3 linked regions of the Homo sapiens genome follow. The protein of the gene in region 1 purifies or fractionates together with the protein of each later gene. This does not show direct contact. Each region holds a gene or a part of one and is shown on either strand. Other genes may lie near its edges.

Region 1 (10,650 bases):
GTCCGCCATTTTCAGTGAGTGTGACAGGGTCTGTGGGGGAGGTGGAAAAGGTGTCAACAGGACTGGGGCCAAGAATGGCCTCTCTCTACTTCCCTGGGACTGGCCTGCACCTCTTGTCGCTTGCTGGTGCTGTGCCCTCTGCTGGGAATGCCATTTTTGCCTTCTACGAAACTCCTATTCATCCCGCAAAGCCCCAGCCACAATGCTCCTGTGCTGGGAAGCCTTCTCTGATGCCCCAGGGCAGAGGCTGGAGAGCTCCCCCAGTCCCCACACCTGGTTGTCCTTCTTGATGACACTCTGGGCGGCCAGGGTATTGGTCTTGAGGCTCCGGGCCAGTCCTAGCATCTCTTCCGCCAGCTTTTCCTGGAGGTTCTGATGTCGCTGCAGGACGAGGTCTAGCTCAGCTGCCAACTGCTTCTCACTCACTGGCTGGGACCCTGCCACTCCACTGATTTCACACACGGGGGGAGGAGGACATGAGAGATGGAGTGGGAAAGGGGAGAAGACCAACACATTTTCTTTTTTTTTTTTTTTGATACAGAGTCTCGTTCTGTTGCCCAGGCTGGAGTGCAGTGGCATGATCTCGGCTCACTGCAACCTCTGCCTCCCAGGTTCAAGCAATTCTCCTGCCTCAGTCTCCTGAGTAGCTGGGATTACAGGCACCTGCCACCATGCACAGCTAATTTTTGTATTTTTAGTAGAGACAGGGTTTCACCATGTTGGTCAGGGTGGTCTCGAACCCCTGACCTCGTGATCCACCTGCCTCGGCCTCCCAAAGTGCTGGGATTACAGGCGTGAGCCACCGCGCCCGACCTTTTTTTTTTTTTTTTTTTTGAGACAGCATCTCGCTCTGTCACCCAGGCTGGAGTGCAATGGCGTGATCTCGGCTCACTGTAACCTCCACCTCCCAGGTTCAAGCAGTTCTCCTGCCTCAGCCTCCTGAGTAGCTGGGACTACAGGCGCATGCCACCATGCCCGGCTAATTTTTTGTATTTTTAGTAGAGACAGGGTTTTGCCATGTTGGCCAGACTGGTCTTGAACTCCTGGCCTCAGGTGATCTGCCTGCCTCAGCCTCCCAAAGTATTGGGATTACAGGCGTGAGCCACTGCGCCTGGCCTTTGACTTCTGGGAAGAGCATCCACAGAAGTGGCTTCTGGTTGGTTTAGATCCTTGTGGTAGTGCCTCGGTGGTCCAGGGTTTGGCCACTGCTACCCCGTCCCTGCCGCACCGCCCAATTGCCACTACTGCCCCAGGGCCGCAGACACTCACGTTCTCTTCCTTACGTCCATCTCAGGCTCTGAAAGCAAAACAGGCCAAGCAAAAAAGGCGAGTGTTGGTTTCCCGTTTCCGGCATCCTGAGCATTGCCTGTGCTGGGTCTACTGCTTGGAATGCTGTTTCCTCATCTTGTCTGCTGCCCCGTTGGCTTCTGACCATGCTTGAATACCCCCTCTTCTAGGAGGGTCTCCTTACTCCTGTCTCGGTTCCCTCAGACCCCAGGTCCCTCCCTCCAGCCTAGCCTTGGTCCCATAGGCTGGGAGTGCCTAGCTTTAAAAAATTTATTTATTTGCTTATTTTTGAGACAGAGTCTCTCTCTGTCAACTAGGCTGGAGTGCACTGGCGCAATCTCAGCTCACTGCAACCTCTACCTCCCAGGCTCAAGCAATCCTCCTGCCTCAGCCTCCCAAGTATGCTGGGACTACAGGTGTGCGTCACCACGCCTGGCTAATTTTTTTGCTTTTTTTTTTTTTGAGACGGAGTCTTGCTCTGTCGCCCCGGCTGGAGTGCAGTGGTGTGATCTCAGCTCATTGCAACCTCCACCTCCTGGGTTCAAGCAATTCTCCTGCCTCAGCCTCCCGAGTAGCTGGGACTACAGACACGTGGCACTGCATCCGGCTAAGTTTTGTATTTTTAGTAGAGACATGGTTTTGTCATGTTGGCCAGGTTGGTCTCAAACTCCTGACCTCAGGTGATCCACCTGCCTCAGCCTCCGAAATTACAGGTGTGAGCCACTGTGCCTAGCTTTGTTTCCTCTCGGGGCCATTTCCTCTGTCCTGGCTCTTCCTCCAGGTGTAGTTTGGTGATGCTCCTGTTGGAGTCAGGGCATGGAGTCTCGGCATGGAGGCCCCGGGGCAGCAAGGATACATGTCTTGTCCTAGTCAGCTGGCCCTCAAGTCCTGTTGTGTTCATGGTGACTCACCTGCAGAGTCCTGTGGAAAGAAGTAAGTGGCATGAGGCTGGGTGCAGTGGCTCACTCCCAGCACTTTGGGAGGCCAAGGTGGGCAGATCACCTGAGGTCAGAAGTTCGAGACCAGCCTGGCCAACATAATGAAATTCCATCTCTACTAAAAATACAAAAAGTTAGCCAGGTGTGGTGGGGGTGCCTGTGATCCTAGTGACTTGGGAGGCTGAGGCAGGAGTATTGCTTGAACCTGGGAGGCGGAGGTTGCAGTGAGCCGAGATCGCGCCACCACACTCTAGCCTGGGCAACAAGAGCGAATCTCCATCGCAAAAAAAAAAAAAAAAGTAAATGCCATGAAGTCACCCCCCTTGTCTTGTTCCCAAACCTGTCCCTTCTGACCTCAACCTCCTCACCTTCAGTCAGGACATGGGGAAATCCCATGACCTCTGAGCCTGTTTCCTCAACCTTAAACTGGTAACGACAACTCATATTTTTTTTTTTTGAGACGGAGTTTCACTCTTATTGCCCAGGCTGGAGTGCAATGGCTTGATCTCAGCTCACCGCAACCTCTGCCTCCTGGGTTCAAGCGATTCTCCTGCCTCAGCCTCCCGAGTAGCTGGGATTACAGGCGTGAGCCACCATGCCCAGCTAATTTTGTATTTTTACTAAAGACGGGGTTTCTCCATGTTGGTCAGGCTGGTCTTAACTCCTGACCTCAAATGATCCGCCCGCCTCGGCCTCCCAAAGTGCTGGGATTACAGGCGTGAGCTGCCGCACCTGGCCACAACAACTCATATTTTAAAAGATTGAGCTGATCCACATAAAGTGCTCAGAAAGGAACTTGTCATCCTCTTTTACGGCTGAAGAAACTTATGTGTCTTGTAAGTTGCAAGCCAGGACTCAAACCCTGCTCTTGGGCCAACTCTGGGGCTTAACCAGACACATTCCATTTTTGCCTTGTACCAAATTCCTATTCATCTAGCAAAGCCTTAGCCACAATGCCCCTCTGTTGGGCAGCCTTGTGTGATGACCCAGGGAAGAGATTGCTGGACCCCCTTAGGGTTCCTGTATCTGACAGTATTGTGGTTCTGGCTGCCTACAAGCATAGAACCCCTATTCCTGTCCAAGGGATTCCCAGGGACCAGGGAAGGAGCCCTACCGTGCCTAGTAGCTCACTCCGCATCTCGCTGGTGTACCGCGCCCGTGACTGCAGATGCACCGTCTTTGTGGCGGGCACTCGCTCTCTGGCTGTGGTTGGCACACGGCCAGGGGCCAGGAACTGGTTGGCCAGTGCTTTCTCTGAGGAGGAGGTCTGCAGAAATGTGGGAAGATAAGTCACTGGAGGGGCAGGTCCTGGGGACCAAAGTGAGCGGTGATGGGGGCTGAGGGGGCAGGGGCACCCCTTCTCACCAGCTTCTCGGCTTGCAGCATCCCCTTCAGAAAATCCACCTTCCAGGAATATTCATTGATCACCTCAGAGGCCGGTTTGCTGGAAGGCAGGAAGAAGAAAAACAAAACCTGTCCATGGTCCCCAGCTCAGGGAAGGGTCCCAGCTGGGATAGCGGTACTGGGATGTCCAGTAGCACAGCCACGTGCTGATGTGAAAGCCCTGAGGCTGCCTGCACTCACCTCGCGTGGACCTTCAGGGCCTGCAACATGTCCTCTAGGGCTCCCACGTACTGGGGAGGAAAAGTGGATTGTCACCCGGGGGTCTTTCCCATGTCCTGATCATGGGAGTCGGGGGGGCGGGGCCGACAAATGGGAGGGGTCAAGCGTAAAGGAGGCGGGGCCAGTGGGGGAGGGGCGGAGTCCCAGGGACGGGGGCGGAAGCTACAGGTGGACGTGGCGGGACTGACCGGAAAGGGCGCTGCCCGAGAGGCTACTGGGGCCGGGGAGTCGGGCCAGGTGGCTTCCAACCCTAGGAATCACCCCCCGGGAGTCGGGCTCTACGCGGCAGTGCGAGATCCCCTCACCTTCTCCAGGCGCCACTCGTCCGGGTCCCGTTTCTCCGCTGCCATCGCCTCGCAGCGGGATAGCAGCCGCACCAGGTTTAGCTCCAGCCTCGACGCCGCCATTATCGCCCGGCCCTACACCACCCCTTCCGCCGGCTCCATGTTAAGAGAGGGCGGAAGTGCCTTCAAGTGGCCTTCCGGGCGGATGTTTCCCCCGCGCTCGTTAGCTGGCCCATCTTTGTTTGGAGCGGAAGTAATATCTTGTTTTGAGACGGGGCGCTGGGCCGGGCGCGGTGGCTCAGGGCTGTAATGCCAGCATTTTAGGAGGCAGAGGTGGGAAAGGATTGCTTGAGGCCAGCCCGGGCAAGATAGCGCTACTCTATCTCTATTTTAAAAAAATAGGAGAGGCGCCACCCCATTCTTACTTAGGCGAATCACTTGCTTTTCCTCGAGAGCATGTTAACCCTTCGGGAATGATAGGACGACCGGGGTCTTCTGGTGTCAGACCCGCGTGCAGTGTGCCCTTTTGTTCTGTTTTGCCTGCTCAAAGTACCTCCCCGCACCCCACTCCTACCTGGATTCTTCCCAGTCGGAGCTATTTCACGTCCACACACCCTTCCCGATTTCTGTAGCCTGGGATTCAGGAATCCAAGGCTTCCCCCACCTCAGCAGGGCTCATCTGTATTGTGGTTATGGGTTTCCAGGTCACAGCTCCAGCTCTGATTCCATCCTCGGCCCTGGGAGAGTTTAACTTTTCTGGATCCGCTTCTTCCCCCGGGAAATGGACAGTGTGACAGTACCTGCCTCAAGGGGCACATGAGACAGCTCTGCCTGAGAGTGAGCAAGGTGGGGCTGGGTCCCCCCTAACGCCCAGACCCCCATGGAGAACCCCTTCCCAGCCCACCTCAGTACCTGGAAGCTGAGTACCCCTATGCCTTGCAGTGCCTCTCTTCTGGAGTGACAGGATGAGGGTGGGGGCTTCACAGGAACCAGGGCCTGGCATGCAGCCTTCATGTTTTCCCACACCTTAGGTCATCTGCACCTTGGTTACACCAGTGGGCCTGATGTCCTTGAAAAATATCATAGACGGGTAGGTGCGGTGGCTCACACCTGTAATCCCAGCACTTAGGGAGGCTGAGGCAGATGGATCACCTGAGGTCAGGAGTTTGAGACCAGCCTGGCCAACATGGTGAAACCCCGTCTCTACTAAAAATACAAAAATTAGCCGGGCGTGATGGTGGGTGCCTGTAATCCCAGCTACTTGGGAGACTGAGGCAGGAGAATCGCTTGAACCCAGGAGGTGGATGTTGCAGTGAGCCGAGATTGTGCCACTGCACTCCAGCTTGGGCAACAAAGCAAGACTCCGTCTCAAAAAAAAAAAAAAAAAAAGAAAATACCATGGAGGGCCAGGTGCGGTGGCTCACGCCTGTAATCCCAGCACTTTGGGAGGGTGAGGTGGATGGATCACTGGAGGTCAGGAGTTTGGAGAGCAGCCTGGCCAACATGGTGAAACCCTGTCTCTATCAAAAAACACAAAAATTAGCTGGGCTTGGTTGTGCGTGCCTGTAATCCCAGCTACTCGGGAGGCTGAGGCAGGAGAATCGCTTGAACCCGAGAGGTGGAGGCTGCAGTGGGCCGAGATCGCGCCACTGCACTCCAGCCTGGGTGACAGAGCGAGACCGTGTTTCAAGAAAAAAACCCACAACAAACAATGGAGACCAAACCCAGGGCCCATCAAAGGGGCCTCTAGAGGCTGGCAGGGCAGAGTCTAAATCCCAGCCATGCCCCTCCCAACTGTGTGGCCTTGGAGAAGCCCCTCAACCTCTGGCATGTGCTGTCTGAACTTGGGTTCTTCACGGTGCCCCAACCAATACCAGCCAGCCAGTTCCCACGACTCCCATCCGATGGCAGCCTGGGAGCCCATCTGTTCCTGTCCTGCTGGGCCCACCAGGAACTGGCCACCTCTGCTGGATGGGTGGCTGCTGCAGCTGACATTTAGGCTCCAGAGGCTGGGCACTGAATCAGGGAGGCCAGAGAGGGCTGCCAGGACAGCAGGCGCTCCTGGCCAAGTGAGGCTCTGCTGGGAGCTCCCTGTTTGGTGGAGGATCAAGACAGAACTTTGAGGACAGTGTTCCACCCATATTCTGCACCCTTCTTGGCTGAGGCCACAGGGCAGACCCCCACCCACCGGCCCTGTTCTTCCAAGCCCGATCCCATATGAGCAGGCGTCCCATGCACACACTTCTCAGGCACTTTTTATTTCATGCTGTGCGGGGGCCCCTTGTCCCAGATTTGTGGCCACGTGTCCAGGTGTCTGGGGGAGTGGGCCAAGCCTGAGAGAGGAGGGCCCTGCTCCAGAGATCCCCAGGTTGTCCCTGTTGACCTATAGGGAGGTCTGACTTCAGGCGTTGCCCTCCTGACCCGTGAGCAGTCCTGAGTCGCTGGCTCCTATTCTGTCACACGGGGTGGGTAGTGCCAAAAGCAGCCTCCTGCAGCCCTTGGCGTCCGGAAGAGTGACAGCCACATTCAAGTCTCCCTGGCACGTGAGGTCCATGGTGCCCCTGACTCATGTCCTGGCTCCAGCCAATAGCCCAGACCCCCATGGAAGGTTCCAGCATGTGCAAAAATGCACATTGGCCAGGTGGCTGCCCCCCGGAGACATGTGTCAGAGAGGCACGGGTCAGGTGACCCAAGTGTCCAAAACTCTCATGGAGGGTCCCAGCCCATTGGCCACCCCAAGCCAACCACAGCAGGGTCTGAGCCTCAGACGCGCAGTGGCCTAGTGGCTTCTGCTCTGACAGCTCACGTCCAGGTTATAAGGGAGACGGGCAGCGTTAATAGAAAACTTTGTACATACACATATAAAAAACCATTTGGTCTTCCATTAAGGCTGTTACAGTTTAAAGTTACGTAAACCACGTACAAAGAAACAGTTAAACGTACAAAAAGGGGAGTGGGGAGATGTGAGGCCGCAGGTGGAGATGTGGTGCTCCCCACAGGTGCGTCCATGATTTGGGGGCTGCGTGCGAGGGGGCCTGGCTCCAGCCGGCCTCTCCCTGCCTTGACTCTGCACTTGGGGCCGGTGCCCACCTCACGTCACTCTTGAGCTTTTGATTCTGGATCCTTCTCTGAGGGCCGAACACTAGCTCTGCAGCTCTGGCGCCCAGCTCCAGTGCAGGGGCCGTCCTCGGACATGCAGACTTTGTCAGCTGTGGCTCTCAGCCATTGGTCTGGCCCGAGGCGGGGGGCAGGCAGTACGTTGGGGGATCCGAGTACCTCCGCTTGGCCCCAGGTGGCTGGCCATCCTCTTCTAGGGGCTCCAGGGCGCCCTGCACTGGCAGGTCTGCCCCGGGCGTGATGTACACGGAATGTATCTGGTCCGGGCGGCGGGCAGGTGGCTCCCGGCGCCGCACTGGGGCAGCCGCCTCCCGGGCACCCGGTGCCCAGCGAGGCAGGTGGGAGGGCAGGCCTGGTGGGAGCTTGATGTTGGCCGTGGGCATGATGGGGGTCCGCCGGGGGGTCTTCACTCTGACCGTTACGAAGGACGACGGCCTTCGTCGTGGAGGGGCGGCCACGGTGGGGAGGGGGCTCGGGGTGGGCGCGCCGGGGCAAGGGAGAGCAGGCGCAGGGGGCCCTTTTGAGAGACAGATGGCAGGGTTACTGCAGCTTCAGGGCCGGCAGCCGGAGGACCCTCGCCCTGGGGCCTGCTGGGATGGACGGGAAGGAGAAAAGCAGACGCTACCTTAATACTGACCTTCCGAGGCCCCCCGCCCGGCCCGCTCCTCCAGCAGGCTCTCGGTGCTGGCCGACGTCTCCGAGTCCAGGTTCTCCTCGTCCGAGCCCCTTGGGTCCAGCTCCGGCAGCCGGTAGGTGATGTCCTCCCTGGAGGAAAAAGGGTAGTGGTGTCCAAGGCCACCCCACCGGAAGTGCTGGGCCAGTGTGGAACAGAGCAGGCTGTCCTGCTCCTAGATGTAACTCTGTGTCCCCAACCTCCCCCCACCCCAAGCAGGAGGATTGCTTGAGCCCAGGAGTTTGAACCCAGCCTGGGCAACATAGGCGGACCCTGTTCTGCAAAAAGTAAAAAAAATTAGCCAGGCGTGGTGGTGTGCACCACCTGTGGTTCCGGCTACTGGGGAGGCTGAGGTGGGAGGACCCCGTGAGCCTAGGGGATTGTGGCTGCAGTGAACCGTGATCGCACCACTGCAATCCAGCCTGGGTGACAGAGAAAGACCCTGTCTCAGAAATAAAGGCCGAGTGCGGTGGCTCACGCCTGTAATCCCAACACTTTGGGAGGCCAAGGTGGGTGGATCACTTGAGGTCAGGAGTTCAAGACCAGCCTGGCCAATGTGGTGAAACCCTGTCTCTATTAAAAACACAAAATTAGCAGGGCATGGTGGTGGGCACCTGTAATCCCAGCTACTCGGAGGCTGAGGCAGAGAATCGCTTGAACCCGGGAGATGGAGGTTGCAGTGAGCCGAGATAGCACCACTGCACTCCAGCTGGGCGACAGAGCGAGACGCCGTCTCAAAAAAAAAAAAAAAAAAAAAAAAAGTGTTGTTTGCCCAGTGTTAGGGATGACAGGACCAAACCTGGCGAGGTCAAGCGGACCACCAGGGATGGAACCTGCACTCCAGCTTGCCCTAAACATGAAGGACTGAGGGAGGGGACTGAGCCACTTGCTTCTCCTCCTTGATGGACTGGATCCGTTCAATGAGAATCTCCTTTTCCCGGTCCTCATCGCCGCCGGCTGCCTCCTCCTCCAGCAGCACCTCCAGCTCCTCCTCCTGGATGTCCCGGGTCTTGGGGCTCTTGTTCTGAAACAAAGAAGCAAGGGGTCCCACTGACATCTCTGAGTGGGCGAGGTTACTGCCGGAGGTGTGAGCAGATCCCAGGAGGTTAGTTGTGATGTGAGTGTGCTGGGCTCTTAGTGAGACTTCTCTAGGAATCCCATGGGACAGAGTGGTGGTCATGTGGCCGATTAGTCGTCCTGAGCACAGAAGGTCAGCAGGCAAGGGGCCTCCCCAGCATGCACTTCCGGAAGGTTAGGACAGGCTCTGTCTATCCTACGAGGGGCCCAGGGCCCCAGGGAACCCCAGCATGCACTGCACCGGGAGACATGCACCGCGGGCCCACCGAACGCGTACATACCAGGACCCCCTCATAGGGAGACGAAAACCCCAGTTTGAGAGGCCATGGCTGGGAGAGAGATGAACACAGGGTGACCACACGGGCCAAGACAGACACAGGCATGAGCTGGGGATACATCCAATGACCGGTACCAAGATAGGGGGTCCCTGGTTCCCACAGGAGCCCAGAGCCCGTTCCCCACTAACACACCCCTGCACTGTGGGGCTGATTCTTCTGCTATGGGAACATTTCCCCGTGGGTAGGGCCCAGGTCAGAAGGGACAAGGCTGGACGCATGACCTGAACCACCAGCAAGCAGGAAGCTGGTCCCCCTACCTGCCCCACCTAGAGGAACATAATTGGAGTGAGGCTGAGCGAGGACCATCGTCTTTCGTTCAAGGCAGTAAGTCTGCCCCTACCTGCAGGGCCTGGTGGCCCCAGCCAGGCTGGTTGTGGCCAAGGGTGTGGTAGGAGTGGGCGGGGAACTGGGAAGGGAGGCCCCGCCCTGCTACCCGAGACCACACCCACTACCCGGTCCCATCCTCGGCATGGGAGGTCCTGCCCACCCAAGGCCCCGCCCACCAAGACCCCACTCACCAGCCTTCCCAGCAACAAAGCCACGCCCAAGGCCCTGCCCAGCACCAGGCTCCGCCCCACCAAAGAGGTCCCGCCCCCACGATCACCGGTACTCACAGCATTTTGTCGCAGGAGCGAAAGCCTGCGGAAGGCGATACTCTCTGCAGCCTCCAGTTGGCTGATCTCCTCCATCTTCACTTTGTATTTCCTCATCTGCTCCTTGATCAGCATCTCCACGCACCTACAGAGAAGGCCCACGGGAGGAAGTGACTCAGTTACCGCCCCGGGGACGTCTGAGGTCCAGGGAGATGCTAGCTGGTGCCTGGGGGGCAGTGGTTGAGGCTCAGAGACCAAGCAGTGCCTGGGACACGGCTGTGCCAGCTCCCATGCAGTGTGACCTTCGGCAGCTCACTCTACCTCTTTGAGCCTGTCTCCTGTCTCTGCACGCCTCCTTGTTTGAAGGAGGGTCAGAGTGAACTGAACCCCTTAGTCACCAGTAGGGTGGGAATTATCCTGCCTCGCAGAGAAGTACAAGCTGCTGGGCAGTTTGTCCCAGGGGCAATAGGCAGATGGCCCCAGGGGCTCCAGACATGGGCTGACCCACAGTATGCCCACTTGGTGGTCAAGGCCAGCCTGGTGTTGTCAGTATCAGAGGGTCTCAGCTCGGAGTGGTCAGTGTCAGAGGGACTCAGCTTGGAGTGGTCATTATTGGGAGGAACTCAGCCTGGAGTGGTCAGTATCAGAGGGACCCAGCTTGGAGTGGTCAGAACCAGAGGGACTCAGCTTGGAGTGGTCAGAACCAGAGGGACTCAGCTT
Region 2 (4,871 bases), on another chromosome or scaffold:
TCAATGACATTTCAAAATGGGTCACATTCAACTCTATTTTCAGGAGGAGGCAAGTAAAAGAGGAATAAAGTGTCAAAGGGAGCAATTTTAGGGCATACAGAGCCCACGCAATTCCATATTGTGAGGAGGATGTTGACAATTAGTGGGAAGCAGTAAAGAAAAATGTTAAGACAAGAAAATCTGAACTTGATAACATCCATCTGCTGCACTTACAGCTGGAATCTGAGTGGGAATTTCCCATCTGTGCTTTATTCTCAGCTTTAATTTGACTATAAATAAGACACATGTGTGCACAATCTGCACCGAGTGTCTTTTGGGGCCAGGAATTGTTTAAGGATGATATACAGCCTACAAAATTATGTGTGTGTGTGTGTGTGTGTGTGTGTGTGTGTACACAGTGTGGATCTATACTTAGATCCACACTTTAACTTGGAATCCACTCATTAAGCTGGTCTGAGATGTGCAGCTAGTTTTTTATAACTTGGTCCCATGATGATCTGCCACTTTATAACTGAGGCCTTAACTCTTGACATCCTCTGCTCAAACACCTCTAACAGAATGCTGGTGCCTGGCCCAGCTTTTCCTGAAGCACCGCTGCTGTCAGCTGCAGGAAACCTCAGTGCCCAGGGCCCAGGGGGTGGCAGCATTTGGAAAGGCCATGGCAGGCCTGGTCTGAAGACAGCTAGCTACACTTGCTGCTTTATATTCTCATTGGATTCTCAAGTTGACTCTATGAGGACCCATATGGATTATCACCTCCATTTTACAGATAGGAAAACTGAGGCTTAGCAACATAAAGTAACTTGCCAATGGTCCTGTGGTCCATTAGCAGTGGAGCCAAATCTCAAAACCAAGTGTTTGAGCCAAGGATCAAAGTCCATGTTCTTCCCACTTTCCCTTCAGCCTCCACACTGCCCTTCCCAGGTCCTCTGGGGCTATAAATAGTGGGGGAGGCTGGGATTTCAAGCTTGAGGTCAGCCAGGCCTGCAGCACAAAAGACACAGCACCTCTAGGACTGGCCTAGCCTGGGCCCTCTCCCTCTGGCCTGGACAGAACTCAGGCTCACACAGTCTCAGCTTCTCACTAGCTTCTCCCTCCTTGGTTATACTTAGCTCTGGACATCAGAGAGAAAGGCATGTGCCAGCCCGAATCACTGCACACCCCCAGGCCTGGCCAGGCTGCTGTGGTAGAGAATGGCATTGCAGCCTTTTCAGATGTTGGTGTGAGCCACTTCCAACAAGGGCTGTTTTCTGTTCTGTTTCTGTTTTTTTGTTTTTTTTTTTTAAATACAGACAGGGTCTTGCTATGTTGTCTAGCTGGTCTTGAACTCCTGGGCTCAAGTGATCATCCTGCCTCAGCCTCCCAAAATGCTGGGATTAGAGGTATCAGCCACCACACCTGGTTGAACAGGGGCTGTTGGACCCTCCTTCCTGATAGTCTGTGAGATTTTATTTCCGTGTCTCCTTCTGTTCCTCCTTGAGGGAGGAACCATGTCTGGTTCACCAATGTATTTGTCATGTTCAGCAGCGTCTATAACACCCTGTGTGTGGCAGCTGTTTAATAGTTCCTTGTTGTTGGGTGGGGACAGAAAGAAAATAACAATGCTAATTCGTTGTTGAATGAATGAATAAATAAATAATCTAGGTTCATGTCCTAAAAATCTGGACATCAAGAAAAGAGGGCTGGGCATGGTGGCTCACACCTGTAATCCCAGCACTTTGGGAGGCCAAGATGGGTGGATCACCTGAGGTCAGGTGTTCGACAGCAGCCTGGCCAACATGGAGAAACCCCATCTCTACTAAAAAAATACAAAAATTAGCTGGGTATGGTGGTGTGTGCCTGTAATCCTAGCTACTTGGGAGGCTGAGGCAAGAGAATCTTTTGAACCCAGGAGGCAGAGGCTGCAGTGAGCCAAGATTGCGCCATTGCACTCCTGCCTGGATGATAGAGCAAGTCTCCATCTCAAAAAAAAAGAAAAAAGAAAAGAGGAACACACATTCCCAGAGGGCTATCTTACAAAATCAAATACATTTTATTCTATTAAATAAAATCAAGTTTATTCAAGGAATGACCAGGAGTTTTCATCACCTTTCTTCCTACCTCTTCTCTCTTCCCTCCACCAGATCTGGCATTTAAGGGCACGATGGGAGCGGGAGACAGGAGGGGCATCCGGTCCTGGAGGCTGGACTTTAAGTGCTCCACGCAGCAGCGGCCTCCCATAGTGCACAATGGTGGAAGGAGGCGGTTCGTATGTCCCCAGGGCGGCATCCCAATGCCAGACCTTCCTCCCATGGCTCTGTTCACCCTTTACAAGCCAGCTACTTGCAGAAAAGTGGGGCACTGTGTTCCATCCAACCTGCAGGCAACTGGTGCAAACGGAGGGGTGTGTGGCTCAGCTTAGCAGCCTAGAGCTCAGGAACCAGGACAGATCCTGAAACAGGAGCTGAAAGGGCCAGAACTGGCACCTTTGGGATCTCACAAAAATGGAAAGAGCCGCTTTTTCACAATATAGAGGACCGTAGCAAGAAACAGGGCTAGCGCAAGGAAGATGAGAAGCTTGTCCGTCAGCTCCCGGCGATTGTATTTTGTGATAAGCTTCCGGCCCAGCTGGATGGTGCCCGACATGGACTTAAATTCTTCATTTGCATCCAGGATCGTTCGTGAAGAAGTGACTGAAACAAAAGAGGAAGGAGGCCCAACTCAGAGACTGCAGCTCAAGATCCAAAGACCTCACTCTGCTGGCTGGGGTGCTGATAAAAACCAGCATTCTCAAGTGAGTTCCTCTGAGCTGGAATCAAAGCATGTGGAGACCAGCCAAGGAGCTGACAAGGAAAGGCTCCTCCCCAGGTCCCATCAGCTCCAGAGAGTGAGGGGGGGTTTGTCTGGGAGTCCTTGAACATGAGCGTCACCAGGGAGAAGGGCAGAAGAGGCTTGCTCACCCAGCCACCTCCTCAGCTCTCTGAAGCAGATGGACGCTGCTCAGGGAAACCACCAGCCACAAAATCAACCCAGGGATCGTGGGCAGGCACTGTGAGGTCTGTGTTGGGGCAGCAGCCAAATGCACCAGAACCTTCCACCTATGAGGTGCGGCCTCCAGGACATCTGCTGGCCAGACCGGCACTTTGCAGGATCTCAAAAGGGCAAGGGTGTCCCGGGCTCTGCCGTAAGCCCTCACACATACCAGTCCCTCAGGCCAGGGATACTGGCTGTAGCTTTAAGGAGGTGACACCTAAGAAGAGGCCCACGTCCCTTAAGGAATCACTGTCCCCAGAGTCAGATGTATTTCTGAATATGGGTATCTGGGCCTGACGCTGAGGGTAGAAGGTGTACCTGGCGAGGTTCTCCCACAAAACATAGCAAGGCATCATCAGAACAGCCATTGAATAGAACACATTAAGTGAAAAGGGAAAGTATAAAGGAACGCCTGTGAAATGTTTCCATTTAGGTAAGAAACAGGGAGATAAATGGTATTTCATTTGCTTAAGTTACAAAAGCTTGGAGGATCACAAGATATTTTTTAAGACACTGGTTACAGAGGTTGCCTCTGGGAAGTGGACCAGAGGGCTGGCAGGTAGGGGTCAGCTGGAGGTCAGAACAGAGAGTGATCTTTTTTGTGTCCCTTTTGTACTCTCCAGAGCTGTGCTGACCAATATGGCAGCCCCTAGACATGCGAGGCTGCTGTGCATAGAAAAACGTGGCTAATGCAAATGGAGATGTCAGGAGATGTAAGTGTCAAACCCACACAATGTTTCTTTTCTTTTTTTTTTTGAGATGCAGTCTCACTCTGTCACCCAGGCTGGAGTGCAGTGGCGTGATCTTGGCTCATCACAACCTCCACCTCCCAGGTTCAAATGATTCTCCTGCCTCAGCCTCCCCAGTAGCTGGGACTACAGGCATGCACCACCACGCCCAGCTAATTTTCTTTTTGTATTTTTAGTAGAGACAGGGTTTCAACATGTTGGTCAGGCTGGTCTCGAACTCCTGACCTCAAGTGATCTGCCCGCCTTGGCCTCCCAAAGTGCTGGGATTACCGGCATGAGCCACCGCGCCTGGCCAAAATCCACACGATGTTTCAAAGACTTAATCTAAGAAAAAGGAATGTAAAATATCTCAATAGTTTTTAATATTAGTTTTACATTGAAATTATAATATTTTACATAATGGGTTAAATAAACATCTTACTAAAATTAATTTCTTATGTTTCTTTTTACTTTTTAACATGTGCCTACTGGAAAATTTAAAGTTACATACGTGGCTGCTGTTGCGTTTCTATGGCAGTCCTGGGCTAGAGTTTTCTTATCCTTCTCTATGCTGTATGTGTTACCTTTTTAAAAATTAAAAGCTAATAAGTAAATAGGATAAATTATCAGAGGAAACACAGCAGCGTTTTGAAAATGACAGATAAAAGGAGAAAAACAAACACTCACAGAACAGGAATCCCTCTCCGCCTGCTTTCTCCACGCCTGCCTGCTGCGATTTCAAAACCCTGAGATCTTGCTAAGTAAAAATCTAATAGGCCTTTCTTTTTAAACTTTATTATTACGGAGAATTTTGAACCATCACAGAGCAGACAGCATAATATCATGAAATGCCATGTGTCCACCACCCATAACCAAGAACCACCAACCTCTGAAATCCTGCTCCCCCTCCCCCCAACTGCAACTACTCCTGCAATTGTGGAGCAAATTCCAGACACCATATTCCTAATAAGCTTTTTGTTTTAAAATTATGGTCCTAGTAGGCTTTTAAATCAAGCTGAATTTGTGAGGCATAAGGAAAGGGTTAAGAACTGTATTCTTCTCTTTTCTTCAATAGTTATCGCTTGTACAAAATGGGCCCCAAGAACACCGGGACCCTCTCAACACCCCAGA
Region 3 (7,546 bases), on another chromosome or scaffold:
AACAAGGTCTTGCTGTTTCCCAGGCTGGAGTGCTGGGACCACAGGCACGTGCCACCAAGCCCGGGTAATTTTATTTTTTGTAGGCGTGGGGGGCTCCCTTTGTTGCCCAGTCTGGTTGACCTTCCCATTATTCATCTATTTTATTTTCCTTTGCTTCCATTATCTCTTTGTGTTACATTGCAGATAATTTCTTTTGCTCCATCTTCTGGTTCAGATTTTCTTCTTAGTCACATTTCATCTGTTGCTAAACTATCCACTGAGTTAAATTTTAGGTATTTTATTTTTAACTTCTAGTTTTTTTCAAATATGCTTTTATATTTTTCTATCCTTTAAGTATTTTCTAACATCTTTTATATCTGTACGCTCACTAAATCTTTCTCCAGTTAATGTTTTCTTTTTTTCTTTTTTTTTGAGACAGAGTTTTGCTCTTGCAGCCCAGGCTGGAGTGCAGTGGTGTGATCTTGGCTCATTGCAACCTCCATCTCCCAGGTTCAACAGATTCTCTTGTCTCAGCCTCCTGAGTAGCTGGGATTACAGGTGCCTGCCACCACGTCCAGCTAATTTTTGTATTTTTAGTGGAGACAGGATTTCACCATGTTGGCCAGGCTGGTCTCGAACTCCTGACCTCAGGCAATCTGCCCGCCTTGGCCTCCCAAAGTGCTGGGATTACAGGCATTAGCCACCGGGCCCGGCCCAGTGTTTTCTTTATAGAAAGGATCTTGAATTTTATACCTAAATTTCATCTTTTTTTCCTCTCTAGCCCTATGTCATAATTTATTGCTTGAAGAGAGAGATTTTTCATGTTTATGTGTGGAATATTTATATTTATGTCTCAAAGACTCAGTATAACAACATTTAAACAAATTAATGTGCAGGGAAAGTCCTGAAATTACATTTCAAATACTATTAGTACACTGTCAGGAGCAGTGTAAAAGTTTTGCAAGCTTGATGAACACTGAATAAAGTAAATGGGTGATGCACATTGCTGGCACTAAGAGAGGAAATATCGTATTTGGTGTGAGCTATTCTCTGCCATTTTGTGTTTGTCCTGAACACATTTCCACAGTGCTTTTTTTTAACAGCCAAGGTTAGTATTTGATTACATTTGCTATAACATTTTTTTCTAGGCTATAATTACTGGTGTCATCAAACTTTAGTACCCTGATTACTTGTGTCTGTATTAAGTTAAAAAAATATAATCTGGACCCTGACTAGAGATTCTTTCTTTCAGCTCATACCCCAGTGAGGTAGAGAGGCTTACTGTTTGGGGATTGTGTTCTTTCTAGGATCCTTTTTTAGGGATATGACTTTAACTAGCTGGCTGCATAGGATAAACGTTACTTATGTTACTTACAAAAACTGCTTGATGTATTCTCAGTCCTTCCATTCCACCACACACTTTTGTCTCAGGAATAAGTCAGTCAGATTAACAGACCCCTACCTATCTAGAATTATTTTTCTTGACCTGTGAATCTTGTATGTATTGTCAGTAACATTACAGATTCCTGTTGATATGAGGCTCATTAGGAGGGAAGGCTCCCTGGCCTTTATAATAGGAAGTGTTTATTTTTCTTCCCTTTCAAGCAATTGGCTTGCTTTTTATCTTACAGACGTACTGAACGGTATGACTGATCAATACTTCTTGTCAGTACTGCATACCAAAGAAGCTTGGAATCAAGTTTAACACTAACTTTTACGTATTATTTACAACTTTATGAGATGACTGTTTTGTATTTGTCCATTCCAAATCATGTTAGTGTTGCCTTGATCACCATTACATGAAGGAGGGACTTTATGTGATAAAATATACATAGGTGTGCCAGAAGAAGGGAACTTAAAGTGGCTTAAAATCTCCATCTAAAATCTATAGGCAACATGGATACCCAACAAACTATGAGAAAGTAGTTGTATAATTAAAATGCATACAAGTAGGGGACTCACGAACCAATCAAATAAAATTTAAATATGATAACCTTAAAATGTCACCAGCTTCAATCATAACCTATTAGTTATTATATTAGTACTTTCTGATTTATCAGAGAAAATGAACAATGTTGAAATTTTATTTCTGAAATGTTTCTTTTAATCAATACATATTAAGTATATAATTTCCTTAAAAATTAACAAATAACTCTGATTTTCACTGTTAGGACACTGTTACAGAGAAGGAAACATATTGCTCTTCTAACTTTTCTTCTTTTTACATTTATCCACATTCCAAGTAGATTATCATAGTAAGGTTCTTCTGTGTTACTTTTGTCCAAGTTGTGACAACTAAAACAAAACACAAAATCATACATAAAACTTTTAAAAAAGATCATAAAAGAAACATTCAAACATATTTGTAAACCCCTTAATAAATTACACTTCCTATTTTATTCACTGCATTCCTAGAATAATAAATCTTAATGTTCACCACTAACTCAAATGTTAAAACTGAAGGCTGGTCATGGTGGCTCATGCCTGTAATCCTAGCTATTTGGGAGGCTGAGGTGGGAGGATCACTTGAGGCCAGGAGTTTGAGACCAGCCTTGGCAACATAGCAAGAGACTGTCTCTACCAAGAAAAAGAAAAGAAAATGGAATTGCAATAAACGTCGTCATAGTAAAGAAATGTAAACATTATTAGGTAACGTTCAATTGATGGAAAAGAAAAACCCTGGGAATTAAAAAAATTAGTGCTAACTTTGTGACAATATAAAGAGAAATGTCATGAGTGACACACTACTGACAGTTCTCATATATTTTTGTATTTCTAAAGGATCATTAAAAGCCAAAGAAAAGGCTTTCAGTTCTGGAAGGATGGGCAAACTCCTACTGGAAACATTATTACTTATCAAGGTTTTCTTAGTCGTCCATGAAAACACCTTATCTTGGTATAGCTGGATGGCTTTGGTTTCGGCTGGTTCAGGTGAGTAAGTGGTTTTCTTTCTCTCTTTTGAAAAATACCAATAGCAACTAGGGGTATGTTAACAGAAACAAACAACAAATGTATACTTTACCTGTTTTATGAACTGTGTAGCATTAAAAAGCTCACTGCAGCCATATAAAATGTGTTTGCCTTGTTTCCCCTGTAAAAATCAGAGTCAGAACTTAGATACAAGTAACAAGAAATATATTCAATATTCCCAAGAAAAGAGATTAATATGCTAGTTTTTTTGTTATTCTTAACAGTCTTTCTTTGGGATACTGTTGGATTTTAGTATACACATCTACCTAAAATTGCATGAAATAAAGAGGAATAAAGTGGTGAAATGAGCATAGTATTTTTGTCCCCCAAAATATATACTATGGCATACTATTGGTGCCATTTCCTATTACACTAAAAATAGAAGGAATCTCACTGTCAAATTTCACAGGAGCAACAGTTACCTATAAAATCTTAGAACAACATTCTTCCAATGTAGGATGTGTACTACTTGAAGAATACATTCGAGTTTCTTTATGCTGAAAGTGGGCTATGGTGCAGGTGGCATGGATTGTGCTTTTAGTCTCACTTGAGCAACACAGTATTTATAAGTTAATACATCTCATTCCACATTGTCAACATCAGGAATAAAAGTCACAGTTACAATGTTGGAACCCAATCACAACAGCCAAAACTTCTCTATTAGCGATTTGCTAATTTCTTGTATGTATCGTGAACCTGAAGGTAAATTCATGAGATTTCTTTTGTAATATAAAAAAGTTTATTCTAGAACAAAGTAATTTGAGGATTCATCAAAGGACAGAGGAATGATGGCTTTGTAACACAACTCTGTGATGTATAAGCTGAGCAAATATTGTTGGCTGAATACATGTCCTAGATGGCCATCTCTGAGAATAAATAAAACAAAAGCCACAACTCATATTTTTTTCAAAATGAGATGGTATATGGGTCATATAATTGGGATTCTTGTGGCTAACAGGCATTAATTAAAGGTAGAGGTCACAGTATGCAAGGAGAAAGCAGGCACAGGGAAACATTAGAGGGGTCCAGAACTTCTAGGCATAGCTCCCAGGAGAACCTGATTCTTGTTCAAGGAGAGGTCTTTTATGCCTCTCTGGTCAGGTAGGCAAAATTGGGCTGCATGACCAGCATGACCAGGCTCAACTGCAGAAACCAAGGGAACATGACAGAAACCAGGTGAAAAATGTAAAATCAATCTTTACATTTTCTATTAAACAATGCTGGCAAGCCAGCCCAAGGTTGCCCCCTGGTTTATCGTAGTCTCTAGCCCAGGCCCAGAATTCATCACTAGTTAATACTTCATTCAGGTTTGGCTAAACATCAGCACCATGGATCCTGGTATTCTTGGAGATAAGCACAGGGGTACAGTAGCCCAGTTGAGATTAATCCTGACTTGTACAGTCCCCACCCTGGACCAAGCTTTCTTAACCAAATTACTCATCATCATTCTTTTCTAATCGTTTTTAGCCATCCAATGAAGTGTAGGTGTAATTTTAAAGAAACACTGTAGTTTACCAAACATTCCAGTGCAAACTTGTTCTTAATCATGTACAAGCTTGATGACCCCTTTACTTACTCTGTCAGTTAAAAATTGAACTTTATGGGCTGGGCGCAGTGGCTCATGCCTGTAATCTCAGCACTTTGGGAGGCCGAGGCAAGTGGATCACAAGGTCAGGAGTTCGAGACCAGCCTGGCCAGCATGGTGAAACCCCATCTCTACTAAAAATACAAAAATTAGCCAGGTGTGGTGGCGCATGCCTGTAATCCCAGCTACCCAGGAGGCTAAGGCAGGAGAACTGATTGATTGAACTCGGGAGGCAGAGGTTGCAGTGAGCCAAGACTGCGCCACTGCACTCCAGCCTGGGTGAGAGAATGAGACTCTGTCTCAAAAAAAAAAAAAGAAAAAAAAATCGAACTTTATAAAATGTACCAGTATATTGATTCAATGTAAAATTAACTCAGTGTAGTTCTTTCTCTAACCAATCACCTTCCATCAAGAGAATACCTTGTGGTTTTAAGTCAAGTTCCCAATTCATCAATATTAGTATTATCAAATGTTTTGATAAAATCAGTCAAATTATTTTTTACCAATTATACCAAAGTTATACCAAATAGCATTTACATTGTGAGTTAGATTAACAACATTACTAAATAAATCAGAATTACAGCAGTATTTTCTGGCACTTGCCCCTTATGTTGTGGACTAGTATAAACCAAGGGCCATGTTAGTTAATTCTGTATTGCCAGTCTCATGTAGGCATAGTCGCATGTTTAGTTTCATACTACGAGACTGTACTGACACAGGTTTCTAATGATGTGAGGAAGGCTGTCATAGACCTAGCTCAGTTCCTTCTTAATAGGGCTGAATGGTAGGGAAAAGATTAGGATTATTCAGGACAAAAAAACTAAAAGGGATTTAAAAATCCTCTCAGGACAATAAACTGGGGAGCTTAGTAGCTACTAAAAATTTAATGGATCTAAAGGGCATCTATGAATAATGTAATAAAATATATAATGGTCAAAGACTAGATGCTTTGCCCGTATGATGAGAAAGAAGACAAGGATGTCTGCTCTTGCCTCTTCTATTCAACAATGTACTGAAGGTTCTAGCCAGGGCAGTTGCAGAAGATAGAAAAGAAGCAAAACTATCTCTATTAATAGATAACATGATCTTGTATATAGAAACTTCTAAAAATCCATTAAAAACAATTGGAACTAATAAACTCAGCAAGGCTGTGAAACGTAAGATCAACATAAAAATCGGTTGGATTTTTATGCACTTGGAATGAGGAATCCAAAAATGAACTTAAGAAAATGCCTTTTGTCTTTGACAAAATTCAACAGCCCTTCATGCTAAAAACTCTCAATGAATTAGGTATTGATGGGACGTATCTCAAAATAATAAGAGCTATTTATGACAAGCCCACAGCCAATATCATACTGAATGGGCAAAAACTGGAAGCATTCCCTTTGAAAACTGGCACAAGACAGGGATGCCCTCTCTCACCTCTCCTATTCAACATAGTGTTGGAAGTTCTGGCCAGGGCAATCAGGCAGGAGAAAGAAATACAGGGTATTCAATTAGGAAAAGAGGAAGTCAAATTGTCCCTGTTTGCAGATGACATGATTGTATATCTAGAAAACCCCATTATCTCAGCCCAAAATCTCCTTAAGCAGATAAGCAACTTCAGCAAAGTCTCAGGATACAAAAATCAATGTGCAAAAATCACAAGCATTCCCAAACATCAATAATAGACAAACAGAGAGCCAAATCATGAGTGAACTCCCATTCACAATTGCTTCAAAGAGAATAAAATACCTAGGAATCCAACTTACAAGGGATGTGAAGGACCTCTTCAAGGAGAACTACAAACCACTGCTCAACGAAGTAAAAGAGGACACAAACAAATGGAAGAACATTCCATGCCCATGGATAGGAAGAATCAATTATCCTGAAAATGGCCATACTGCCCAAGGTAATTTATAGATTCAATGCCATCCCCATCAAGCTACCAATGACTTTCTTCACAGAATTGGAAAAAACTACTTTAAAGTTCATATGGAACCAAAAAAGAGCCTGCATTGCCAAGTCAATCCTAAGCAAAAAGAACAAAGCTGGAGGCATCACACTACCTGACTTCAAACTATACTACAAGGCTACAGTAACCAAAACAGCATGGTACTGGTACCAAAACAGAGATATAGACCAGTGGAACAGAACAGAGCCCTCAGATATAATACCACACATCTACAACCATCTGATCTTTGACAAACCTGACAAAAACAAGAAATGGGGAATGGGTTCCCTATTTAATAAATGGTGCTGGGAAAACTGGCTAGCCATATGTAGAAAGCTGAAACTGGATCCCTTCCTTACACCCTATACAAAAATTAATTCAAGATGGATTAAAGACTTAAATGTTAGACCTAAAACCATAAAAACCCTAGAAGAAAACCTAGGCAATACCATTCAGGACATAGACATGGGCAAGGACTTCATGTCTAAAACACCAAAAGCAATGGCAACAAAAGCCAAAATTGACAAATGGGATCTAACTAAACTAAGGAGCTTCTGCACAGCAAAAGAAACTACCATCAGAGTGAACAGGCAACCTAAAGAATGGGAGAAAATTTTTGCAATCTACTCATCTGACAAAGGGCTAATATCCAGAATCTACAAAGAACTCAACTTTACAAGAAAAAAGCAACCCCATCAAAAAGTGGGCGAAGGATATGAACAGATACTTCTAAAAAGAAGACATTTATGCAGCCAACAGACACATGAAAAAGTGCTCATCATCACTGGCCATCAGAGAAATGCAAATCAAAACCACAATGAGATACATCTCACACCAGTTAGAATGGCAATCATTAAAAAGTCAGGGAACAACAGGTGCTGGAGAGGATGTGGAGAAATAGGAACACTTTTACACTGTTGGTGGGACTGTAAACTAGTTCAACCATTGGGGAAGACAGTGTGGCGATTCCTCAAGGATGTAGAACTAGAAATACCATTTGACCCAGCCATCCCATTACTGGGTATATACCCAAAGGATTATAAATCATGCTGCTATAAAGACACATGCACAGGTATGTT

What was found.
Region 2: the proteins of USE1 (region 1) and BNIP1 purify together in Homo sapiens (co-immunoprecipitation; 6 studies listed by BioGRID and IntAct, with this or other methods). This does not show direct contact.
Region 3: the proteins of USE1 (region 1) and SCFD1 purify together in Homo sapiens (affinity purification with mass spectrometry; 5 studies listed by BioGRID and IntAct, with this or other methods). This does not show direct contact.

What each region holds. Positions count from the first base shown.
Region 1 is NC_000019.10:17,209,011-17,219,660, reverse strand, and holds the start of USE1 (vesicle transport protein USE1), read right to left. Parts: upstream 4,305-10,650; 5' UTR 4,256-4,304; coding exon 4,154-4,255; intron 3,860-4,153; coding exon 3,810-3,859; intron 3,670-3,809; coding exon 3,591-3,669; intron 3,493-3,590; coding exon 3,340-3,492; intron 2,209-3,339; coding exon 2,199-2,208; intron 1,298-2,198; coding exon 1,270-1,297; intron 449-1,269; coding exon 274-448; intron 31-273; coding exon 1-30. Other genes in the region: MYO9B (unconventional myosin-IXb), read right to left, coding at 7,351-7,766, 7,887-8,014, 8,813-8,946, 9,281-9,328, 9,952-10,075.
Region 2 is NC_000005.10:173,161,526-173,166,396, reverse strand, and holds the end of BNIP1 (vesicle transport protein SEC20), read right to left. Parts: intron 4,325-4,871; coding exon of another isoform or gene 4,252-4,324; intron 4,086-4,251; coding exon of another isoform or gene 4,073-4,085; exon of another isoform or gene 4,037-4,072; intron 2,673-4,036; coding exon 2,476-2,672; 3' UTR 2,010-2,475; downstream 1-2,009. UniProt on the Homo sapiens protein: As part of a SNARE complex may be involved in endoplasmic reticulum membranes fusion and be required for the maintenance of endoplasmic reticulum organization. Also plays a role in apoptosis.
Region 3 is NC_000014.9:30,730,314-30,737,859, reverse strand, and holds the end of SCFD1 (sec1 family domain-containing protein 1), read right to left. Parts: intron 3,071-7,546; coding exon 3,002-3,070; intron 2,275-3,001; coding exon 2,251-2,274; 3' UTR 2,010-2,250; downstream 1-2,009. UniProt on the Homo sapiens protein: Plays a role in SNARE-pin assembly and Golgi-to-ER retrograde transport via its interaction with COG4. Involved in vesicular transport between the endoplasmic reticulum and the Golgi.